Linked DNA regions of Homo sapiens. The protein of the gene in region 1 purifies or fractionates together with the protein of each later gene. This does not show direct contact. Each region holds a gene or a part of one and is shown in the gene's direction. Other genes may lie near its edges.

Region 1 (3,655 bases):
TTTCTTGTGAGTTTATGGGTATTTTCTCCACGTTCTTCTTGTAGCTCTTAAGTTCTATTGCATTTGGTTTATGGTTTTTTAATGCCTTTTTAAAAATTCTGTTGCTTATTTCAGTTTGAACCCATTTTCTTACGTCAACACATATCCTTCTAAAACCTAGTTTTTACAGTGAGACATGTTCCATTCCTGTTACAGAGTCCCTAGACTATGAATCTGGGCCAGGTCTGTACATTAGCTAGAACTGCTCTGTTGAAATCTACTTCCCAAACCCCCACATGTGCTACCAATTCCTCATTCCTCAGTTCTTTCATTCCTGGAAGCGGAAAGCTTATTCAGATGTGTCATCCTACTGTATTTAAGATATTTTGGATAATATCTTAAATCTTGGTCAAAAATAAAATTCTTCATTTTTAAGCATGCTTTGTAGCCAGCTGTTTATTTCTGTGACCTCCCTTTTCCTTCTCAGTCACAGCCCTTAAGGCAATGTCCTAACCTCCTGGTGTTTTGTTATCTGCTCTGGGTTAATCACGTAACAGTAGTGGTGGCTTCTCTAAAAAGCTGAAGGTTCTTATTCTTTTCCCTTGAGATTGCACACATTCATCTGCTAAAAGATAAGGGGAGGAAAAAAACTGTTAAAATGTTATGTGGGATTAGATAAACTATAAATTTATTTCCAGTTCAAAAATTGATTTTATATAATGAATATAAGAGGGACCTGTGAATTTGTGTTTAAATACTCTCACACTATACAGCTTTAAAAAAAAAAAAAAGCATATCCTTGAGTTTTTTTATTAAGGTTTAGAGATTACTAATCTTTCTTCAATTTAGCATTACTTGTTGCTTATTTAATATTTTTGCATCTCCTTAGAAGAGCTATACTTAGCCAAAAGGTGGAAACAACACAAATGTCCATTGACAGGTGAAGAGATAAACAAAATGTGGTATATATGTACAATGGGATATTATTCAGCCTTAAGAAGGAGTGAAATTTTGATATCTGCTACAACATGGATGAAACTTGGAAAATATTACCCTAAATGAGCCAAACATAAAAGGACAAATATTTTAGAATTTCACTTATATGAGGTACCTAGAATAGTGAAATTCATAGAGACAGAAAGTAAAACAGTGGGTGCTAGGATCTGATAGGGATAGGGAGAAAACAGATTGTTTAATGGTACAGAGTTTCAGTTTGGGGTGATAGAAAAGGCCTGGAAATGGATAGTGGTGTTGGGTTGCCCCACCATGTGTATGCACTTATTAGTGACATTTAACTGTACACTTAAGGATTGTTAAAATGGTAAATTTTATGTTACACATATTGTACCACAATAATAATAATAAAAAAAAGAGTTCTATACTCATGTGCCAAAGTTGCCTGCCAGCAAGTTACTGTCATCTGCATTGGTGGTTGGATGGATCAGTGAGTGTCACTGGATGGGCACCAAGGTGATGATGTCAGTGGCCTGCTTGCTTGGAGTTTTCCCTCCATTAGCAGCTATTGGAACTCAGAATGAGGAGAATGGAGCTGGAAATCCTGCTCAGTTTACTGTACATCTCATTAAAAGCAAATATTTAGCCACAGCTTTCTCTTAGAAACATTTACACATTGAAACCCATGCCTTCGGCCGATGGTGTTTCCTCCTCAAAATATTTTTTGGCTTGCTCCTCAGGTGAACTTGTTTTAACATTGCTCACCATCATCTACTACACAGATACAGGTGCAGTTATTGAAGTCCGTGGCTTCAGATTAAAAGCTCAAATTAAATCTTCAAGAACCTCAGATGCAGCCATGCATTGCTTAAAGACGTTTGGCCACTCCGGCAGCCGTAGATTGTTATTCGCTGTTGGCCTGGCTTCTTCCGAGAATGTACTTTTAACGTTATTTGCTAATAGTGCTCCCTCATCCTGTCTGCTGTCACAGTATACTGAAAGCTGCATCAGGTAAAGGCACATTAAACATGAATATGGGCTCTCCGTGATTGCTCCCAGGCCGTTCTCTTGATCTTATCATACCAGTGGCCATTATGTGCAATATTATTTCACTTTTCATTTTTCTTGCAGTTTCACCACTCTGATTGCCTTTCAACCTGGCTACTTCATTTCATTGCTACTAACTACCTCATCTTCAGTCAAAAGCCTGAATTTCAGGATCTTTCAGGTAGATTGCTAATTTCTGTTTTGAAAAGAAAACTTTATGTTCTTTGTTCTTAGATTTGAGACATAAGTTGTAGAAGTAGTACTTTTAGCAAAATAAGAATAGTCAATGTAATAAATTTCTTGTAAATTATGCAGTGTGGTAATTGAGGAAACAATTTATAGTCACCTGTGTTACATAAGTGCCTTAACCTGTGTTACACAAGAAGTTTTCTAATGATTATTTTATAGCTCCATCCGTTTTTAAATGCATTTTCTTTCCCTGAAATAGATAAGGTGACAAAATGTGTCCTCAGGTGACATTTGGTTGTGAAAAGTGATATCTTAGTTCTAACTACCTAAGTCAGCAGCAAAGTTTAAACAGTACAGATTTAAAAATTTTTTATAAAGGAATTTAACTCTTGTTAACTATATTATATTTAGCTTTATTGTACTGGATATCTGTATTTACTGAGTATACCTATATGGGAGTCCCTTATATTACTTTGGAATAACAGTTTTTCATATATAAAAAATGTTGTGAAACTTACTGGGAGTGTATGTAATATGCTTTCTAAGGTAAATTATAAAAATTAAAACCAAAGTGTGAACTACTGAGTACTGCATAAAAAGAAAAAAATGAAAATATAATAGTTGTCAGAATAGACAGTTTAGATGCAGTGGTTTGCTCATGTTATTATCTAGCATAGACTCAAGGAAAATTTGAGCTAAAAAGAAAAGGAAGTGAAAGATTACCTGATCAAGGAGTTTCACAATCTGGACAAATAAATCTCCGTGGAGATAACTGAAGTGTCTTCTAGGGTGGGGGACAGAAAGTAGGGAGTGGGTGAGGAGAAGGAGAGAGAGAGGGAGTAAGGGAAAGGGAAAGAGAAGGCTAAAATTTACAGTTCTTGGACTCTTCCCTCCCTCCTTCAGTCATAGTAGTTCCACTTTATCTGTTTCATATCTTGAGTTCTACCTAAAATTTTACTTCGTAAAAAAGACTCTGCTGGTAAAAGATATAAAAATCATATGGTCAAGATGGTGATTCCACCTCGGTGTAATCCCAGCCAACTTGGGAGGCTGAGGCTGAAGGATCACTTGAACCCAGGAGTTTGAGTCCAGCCTGAGCAACATAACGAGACTTCTGTCTCTAAAAGAAAAAAGAGTAAAAATCTCTTGTTTTTATTCAGCTACTTGTGCAGTTAAAGAAAACCCAGGAACACACAATCCGTTTTTGGGAGATGTATTCAGCCAGTCAACAAACATTATATGTCTATTAGGAGCCTCCTTATATAAGTCAACTATTAGTACAGTAGAGAAGCATAATCACATCAAAACAAAACAACAGTTATTTATTAGCTATGTACTTTGTGCAAGGAAAAAACAGTCAGTTCATAAAGATAAGGCTTGTGTATGCTTGCTGTCAGAAGGAACATTCTTCTATAGTTATTTAAGTAGCTGCTTCTATAGTTATTTAAGAAGCTTGCTAAAAGTTAAATGAATTGCACTTTGGTCC
Region 2 (3,655 bases), on another chromosome or scaffold:
TTTTGCTGTAATGCAAAGGGAAAGCTAAAATGAATTAAAAGCTGGCCTAAATTAAGACAGCTGGGGTGATCACTGGGTGTATAATACCAGAGTGTGGTAGACCTTGGTTAAGTTTTGAGAATGTGTCACAACATCCTACATCAGAGTTGATATGTTGTCCTGGTTGATTTTGGTGGCTGTGGTCATGGGGACGGAGAGCTTTTTAAACTTTGTTGACTTCGTGGATTGTGAAAAACTATAAGGCATGCACAAAGCATGGACTGACTTTAGAGTCAGAGGGCTCTCAGGCTACAATCTGGCAATGCCTCTGTGTGACCCGGAATAAAATAGGTAACATCTCAGAGCCTTAGTTTACCTTTCTGCAAAATGGGAGTAATGATGCCTACCTAGAAGGGCTGTTGCGAGGACTGGCGCTGGTACCTGGCTGGCAGGACTTGCTTGGTTGACCAGTTATGATCACGGTGTTCATCTGTTATCTTTCCATCTCTCCACTAGGTACCTTGGGATCACAAGGCCCCTCACATACCCTGTGAGGCAGAATGGGAAATGCATGGCGAAGATGATTCTCTCCGTCTGGCTTCTCTCCGCCTCCATCACCTTACCTCCACTCTTTGGATGGGCTCAGAATGTAAATGATGATAAGGTGTGCTTGATCAGCCAGGACTTTGGCTATACGATTTACTCTACCGCAGTGGCATTTTATATCCCCATGTCCGTCATGCTTTTCATGTACTACCAGATTTACAAGGCTGCCAGGAAGAGTGCTGCCAAACACAAGTTTCCTGGCTTCCCTCGAGTGGAGCCAGACAGCGTCATCGCCCTGAATGGCATAGTGAAGCTCCAGAAGGAGGTGGAAGAGTGTGCAAACCTTTCGAGACTCCTCAAGCATGAAAGGAAAAACATCTCCATCTTTAAGCGAGAACAGAAAGCAGCCACCACCCTGGGGATCATCGTCGGGGCCTTTACCGTGTGCTGGCTGCCATTTTTCCTCCTCTCGACAGCCAGACCCTTCATCTGTGGCACTTCCTGCAGCTGCATCCCACTGTGGGTGGAGAGGACATTTCTGTGGCTAGGCTATGCAAACTCTCTCATTAACCCTTTTATATATGCCTTCTTCAACCGGGACCTGAGGACCACCTATCGCAGCCTGCTCCAGTGCCAGTACCGGAATATCAACCGGAAGCTCTCAGCTGCAGGCATGCATGAAGCCCTGAAGCTTGCTGAGAGGCCAGAGAGACCTGAGTTTGTGCTGTAAGGTCATTTATCACTATTTTCCTTTTATCCCCCAAACCCTTTTATGCAGCTTTTTGAGGCACATCACAGAAAGCTTCCTGAACGAGTAGCTAGCTTAGTTTTTACTAAACATACCAGATTTGAATTGACAACAGTATAGACTCCAGTCTTCCACCCAGTAAAATTCCAAAAGCCAAAAATAGGTACTTAGTTGGATTGGTAGATGAGACTAATTTGCTGATGAATTGCAATTGATGTGATTGACAACAAGGCAGGTGATATTTTCCCTTCTTTCTCCATAAATGACATCCAAATGATATCCTTACATCTGAATTTGTGTAACATTATTATTTTAGTTGTTATTATTCTTCTGTCCAGTAAAGCTTTTTTGATAACCTCATCCTTCACAGATAAATTCTTCTTTTGAGGTAGGAGGCACAATGATCTTTTTAGTATGCAGTTACATTCACCTGGGCTGAAAGGAGGCAGCCCAGGAAAAAGAAGAGTTGTTAGTGTGGGGAGATGCCAGGATGAGGCAAGGTCTTAAAAGCTACAAGAGCCGGACATGGTGGAGCGCCTCTGTAATCCTAGCCACTTGGGAGGCTGAGGCAGGAGGATAGCTTGAGCCCAGGGGTTGGATTATGCAGTGAGCTATGATCATGCCACTCCAACCTGGTTGACAGAGCAAGACTCGCCTCTAAAAAATAAAAGAAAAAGAGCCACAGGAGCTTTTAGGAAATGTTCCTGCCCATCTTGGCAGGTGAGAACCAAGAATTGGTCTAAGAAGTCTTAGTGACTTTCAAGGAAGCAATTACAATAGGTTCTTGGGATCTGAAAAAGGATCTGATGGTGATAGAGAAATGGAAATTTCAGAAGTGACCCACATGTTAAAAATTTGGCATTGTAAAGAAGGAAAGAGATAGTATACTAGTTAGAGGTGTCAACATGTCTGATGAAGACTTTGTTTTAAATGTGAGGTAGAGGAGATTTCTTCACGTTTGAAAGTCAGGGGAAAAATAAACTTGGAATGAAAAATTGGAAGGTTCTGGTGAGAGAATGAGCAGATTAGTGTTGGAGGTGTCGTTCTTCACTGAGCCTGGCAGGGAGGAGTAGACTAGAGAACCAGGGACCACTCTAGCAGAGAGGGACCTTCCTGGTCATCTTGTCCACCCCTGTCTTTCAACAGAAGAGCTAACTGGGAGTTGAAAAGTGAGATGTCTCACACTTAGCTAGTGTCACAACTAAGTCTAGATTCCACATCATCTGAATCCCAGTGCTACTCATTTTTCTTATACTGGACTGCCTTTATCTTACAACTGAAAGTTGGAAGACTACAGCTATGCTAATTCTTAAGCTGAGTGTAGCTTCACAGGCATTCATGTTTACTTCTATATACTCTTTTGTACACGAGATTGTTCACAATATAAAAAGTAGCATTAAAAAATGTAATTTTAAGTTCTAGAACATGTACTGTAAGCAAACCCAGAGATCTTACTATGCCTATAAGAGTTCGTTGAACTGACCATTAGGATTTTGAATTCCTTCAGAGAAGGAACAATGTCTTAATCAGATTTCTTTCTGCAGAATCTAGTACAGTGCTTGACACATAATAGATGATAAATAAAAGTAATAACTGCTAACCATTATTGAACACCCGCTACATGCTATGCAGCATGCTACCTGCAAAATAGGTGCTTCTAGCATCCCCACTTTTCAGAAGAACAACTTAAGGCTCAGGAACAAAAGTAACTGACCTATGTTCACACAGTCCCTAAGTGGTAGCTGTGATATGAATCACCCCGATGCTTGTATTGAATGTTATGCAGTTATACTTGTCAAGTGACTTCAGTATATAGGCAGTGAAGAGTCTCAGAATATTTTTGAGCTGGAGACTAGCCATAAGCTCTCTAAGAAGACAATGAGAATGAATTGTTACTCTAAGTAAGTAAAGTTTATTAGACTTACTGCACTACGAGTGGTATCCACTCCTAGACAGTCTTAGTAGTTTCTCAGATGAAGGAAATAAGGCAAGGATATTGATAGGGTTTTGGGGCTTGGGCTGGGTGATTTGAAGGTAGGGAACTGGTGAGGATTAGGCAGAGTTTATGACATAATAGCTTTAGACTGGTAAGTACAGCTAGATGAGGGCTGTGAAGTGAGTGTTAATGAGCAAACTAGTCTTGATAAGTAGGCTATTTTTGTTGGCATATAGTCTTCTGAAAGTGACTATTTCCTAGAACAAATAGCTAGGTTATTTTGCCTGGCTGCAGCATTTTTTAGCACAGGAAAAGGAAAGCGTGTTGGTTTTAGTTCTCAGGAGTAACATGGGAAGGTCTCTCTGGCAATAGTGAGGAGGGCAGACAAGGGAAAGATGGGTGGCAGGGGATCCAGTTAAGCAGCCAGTGTATAAAGTAGGAAAGAA
Region 3 (3,655 bases), on another chromosome or scaffold:
TCTGATAAGACTGTCACAGACACAGTTAAAAATTTTCCTCTTAAATTTGTTTCAGTCTCAGGTATTAGGAGTGGATTTTTGTAAAATGAAACAAATACTACTCTATGTTATACAACATGATACCTGTAGTTAACAACGTAGTGTTGTGCACTTAAAAATTTAAGAGGGTAGACTCCATGTTCAGTGTTCTAAACACACACACATACACACACACACACACACACACACACGCACACACGAGGTTAGGGGAAGGGAAACGGAACTTTGAGAGGTGATGGATATGTTTATTACCTTGGTTGTGGTGTGTCATGAGGGTGTGCGTATATATCCAAACTCATCAAATTGTAAATGTTAAAGATATGCATTTTTGTATATCAGTTATACCTCAAAACCATATAAAAAAGTACTGATATATCTTAAAAAGTGGATTCATTTATTTTCAGATGTTAGAGCACTTATCTAAAATCTAACTTTTTTAGAAAGGTGACCTTTATTAAAATATTTTCCTTTTAATAGTTTTTAGAAAAACATTTCTGAGAACAGTTGTTTTATAATGGCTTTTGGGGGAGATTATCTATGGATAATTGTTAAGGATTATTTGCTATGTTATTCTTGGCATTTTTGTAAAAATATTATATGGCATTGAGTTGTTTAATTGAATATTGGAGGCAGGATTCAGTCTTTCCCTGATTATTAAAAAACTGGAAGTTTATCAGTACTGACAAGCCCTGTAAAACCAATTAGAATGTACAATATATTTAATCTCTCTTGTTTTAAATATATATTTCCTTAATATTAGCCTGAGTCTCATTAAATTTAAATGATTTTTAAAAAATATGTCATATATTACTACACTAGAGACTGTACAGACTAATTTTTTGGTTGATTTTTTAAAATCTTAAGTATAACATTCAAATAGAAAAGTGGCTTGTATAGTTCAGTGGATTTTCACAAAGTGAACATACCTGTGTAGCCAGGGTGCCTTTTTTTGTTGTTTTTAAGTCAAATAACCTTTAAAAAACCTCTTTCTCTGCATCCCCCAAAACACACAAATGGAAACTGCCTGAGTCTTAAATGTGCAAAAACCTAATCCTGCCCTAAAAAGTGTTTTAAGTTTAGAATATGCTCACAGTGCTTCACTAATCTTTCTAAAACACACTGATTTAAAGAGTTTTCTCTGCCCTAGTCCAGGTTCAAAATGGAGCTGACCTTTCTGCTGAGTATATATTGAGGCATGTCAACAAGCATGGTTTTTCTGTTACAGCTTTCAAAGTTTGAAGTAGAGAAATAAATTTTGTAATTGAATTTGAGCCCAAGGCACAAAACAGATGGGTGTAACTTTAGTTAAAATTTAAAAATTGACTTTTTTTCAGATTTTGTGAATAGCTAGAAAGCTAGAACTGTGTTTCATCAGCTTCTAACTTCTAGATTTTGTTAGGCTTTTTCTAGGCTGATCTTATAATTTCTATAATACTTAGTCAGGGTCATTAATGTGTAGGTTTTAAATTAGGACATAGGCAGAGAAACGTCCCTAGTGTTTTTGTGTGTAGAATAGAAATTTTCCATGCTAGATTGCACTGAATATGTAGTGTGTCAGTTGTTCTGGATGCTAGGGATGTAGCAGAAACGGAATTAGCCCTGGCAGAGCTTAGGATCTATTGGAGGATACAGATCAGAAAGATTGACAGTTACAGATAGTTATGCAAAGTGTCAAGACAGATTGCTATGGAGCACACAGGAGGGCCACCTAATTCAGAGGAGGAAGAGTGGAAGTGTCAAGTAGCCATTTCACTTAAAACATTTTCAGCAGGTCACCTGTGGTACTCCCAATGACTTGAGTCAAAGGGAAGGGAGCAGGAAAAAAGGAAAGAAGACATGTTCTCAGTTTGGAGGTTCTTTAGATGTTTGCATAGTAGCCTGGGGAATCACTCTGAACAACACTGGAACCTGAGGAAGGTTGGCAAGGGTATCAAAGTAGCTAGAATTTAACTTACCTGACAGTGAGCCTGATAAACCTTTTCTTTAACTATAGATTCTAGGTTTAGGCTCAAACGCCATGTTGTCCTGACCAGGTGTTAGAGTTTCTTTAAATTTTAAGAGTCTACCTGCTTAGGAGTGTAGTTATTCAAGAGTAAGGAGCTACTTGGTTGGTTGGGTTTTGCCTATCCCCAGATCGTAAACCCCGCAAGGACAAAGTCTGTCTGCATTATTCCCTACTCTGCACCCAGAGCCCACCACAGTTCCCAGTGCGATTTGATGCCTAGTTGGTGTTTAGGTAAATAATAATCCTTTATGGGTAGAATCAAGTTTCACAAGCAGGTAGTCATCTGTGCATCAGGCCCAGTCTGGAAAGGGAGAGCCACAGGTTCTAATGAACTATATGCTGATGGTGATGGTGACGACGACAATAATGATGGTCATAATAAATGATGACACTTTCTACTGATATACTGAATTATTTAAGTAAGAGGTATTTGTGACTATCCTATTGTTTATTGAATTTTAAAGTATGGTAAACTATTTGACATAATTTATTTCTAATAATAATTTTGTCAAAATTTCTTGAAATCTATCTATTTGAAGGGTGGGTTAAGCAAATCATTAACATACAAAAATAAACGTTTAGTAGTTTTAAAAGCTTTCAAGCATCATTTTAAGACTTTTAAATTCAGATAACATTCTTGTGTTTCATCAGATATTTATAAAAATCCCTAAAATGGCTGGGGACAGTGGCTCACACCTGTAATACCAGCACTTTGGGAGGCCGAGGTGGGCAGATCACCTGAGGTCAGGAGTTCGAGTCCAGCCTGGCCAACATGGTGAAAACCCATCTCTACTAAAAATGCAAAAATTAGCTGGACATGGTGGCGCATGCCTGTAATCCCAGCTACTCGCGATGCTGAGACAGGAGAATTGCTTGAACCTAGGAGGCGGAGGTTGCAGTGAGCTGAGATTGTGCCACTGCACTCCAGCCTGGGTGACAGCGAGACTCCATCTCAATAAATAAATAAATATCCCTAAAATAAGAACTAAATTTGTCCTTGCATCAGTGCATATACTTTTAAAATTGCAGCTCATCTTCATACTTTATTGAGACGTATTTGTGAATAATCCAATTAAGACATTGAAATTGTCTCTTTTTTTCCCCCTAAATTTAATCTTGTAGCATTTTTGGTTACTCCTGCTTACATATTTGGCTCTTTTCCTAGGTAAGTGGAGGTATACTTCGAATTTTTCCAGAAGGCAAAGCCCAGTTTGCTGACATTGAACCCAAATTTGATAGACTGCTGTTTTTCTGGTCTGACCGTCGCAACCCTCATGAAGTACAACCAGCATATGCTACAAGGTAGTATTCCTTTTCAGAAAAAATTGGTTTAGAGTATGGTAGGACAGGAGGGAATCTGTAGAGTAAACGTGAAAGCTTTCTAATGAGTATTTTCCTGCCAGGTACTTTTCACAGTCATTTTAATTTGAATAATTGTATAAGATTTATGTTGCACAGTCATCTGAATTCAAATAATTATATAAGACTCATTAACAGTTAGTACTAAATGTGTCTTTCTTTGCACAGCCACTCTGAAGAAAGGGAAGCACAGGCCTTCCCATCTTTCTAGCACTCTCTCCGTGCTTTGTGCATCTCTTAACTACTATCCAT

Evidence for each region.
Region 2: the proteins of RHOBTB3 (region 1) and HTR7 purify together in Homo sapiens (affinity purification with western blotting; one study listed by BioGRID). This does not show direct contact.
Region 3: the proteins of RHOBTB3 (region 1) and EGLN1 purify together in Homo sapiens (affinity purification with western blotting; one study listed by BioGRID). This does not show direct contact.

What each region holds. Positions count from the first base shown.
Region 1 is NC_000005.10:95,786,698-95,790,352, forward strand, and holds part of RHOBTB3 (rho-related BTB domain-containing protein 3), read left to right. Parts: intron 1-2,064; coding exon 2,065-2,161; intron 2,162-3,655. UniProt on the Homo sapiens protein: Rab9-regulated ATPase required for endosome to Golgi transport. Involved in transport vesicle docking at the Golgi complex, possibly by participating in release M6PRBP1/TIP47 from vesicles to permit their efficient docking and fusion at the Golgi.
Region 2 is NC_000010.11:90,746,435-90,750,089, reverse strand, and holds part of HTR7 (5-hydroxytryptamine receptor 7), read left to right. Parts: intron 1-495; coding exon 496-1,251; coding exon of another isoform or gene 1,252-1,255; exon of another isoform or gene 1,256-1,256; intron 1,257-3,655. UniProt on the Homo sapiens protein: G-protein coupled receptor for 5-hydroxytryptamine (serotonin), a biogenic hormone that functions as a neurotransmitter, a hormone and a mitogen.
Region 3 is NC_000001.11:231,370,253-231,373,907, reverse strand, and holds part of EGLN1 (egl nine homolog 1), read left to right. Parts: intron 1-3,209; coding exon 3,210-3,346; intron 3,347-3,655. UniProt on the Homo sapiens protein: Cellular oxygen sensor that catalyzes, under normoxic conditions, the post-translational formation of 4-hydroxyproline in hypoxia-inducible factor (HIF) alpha proteins.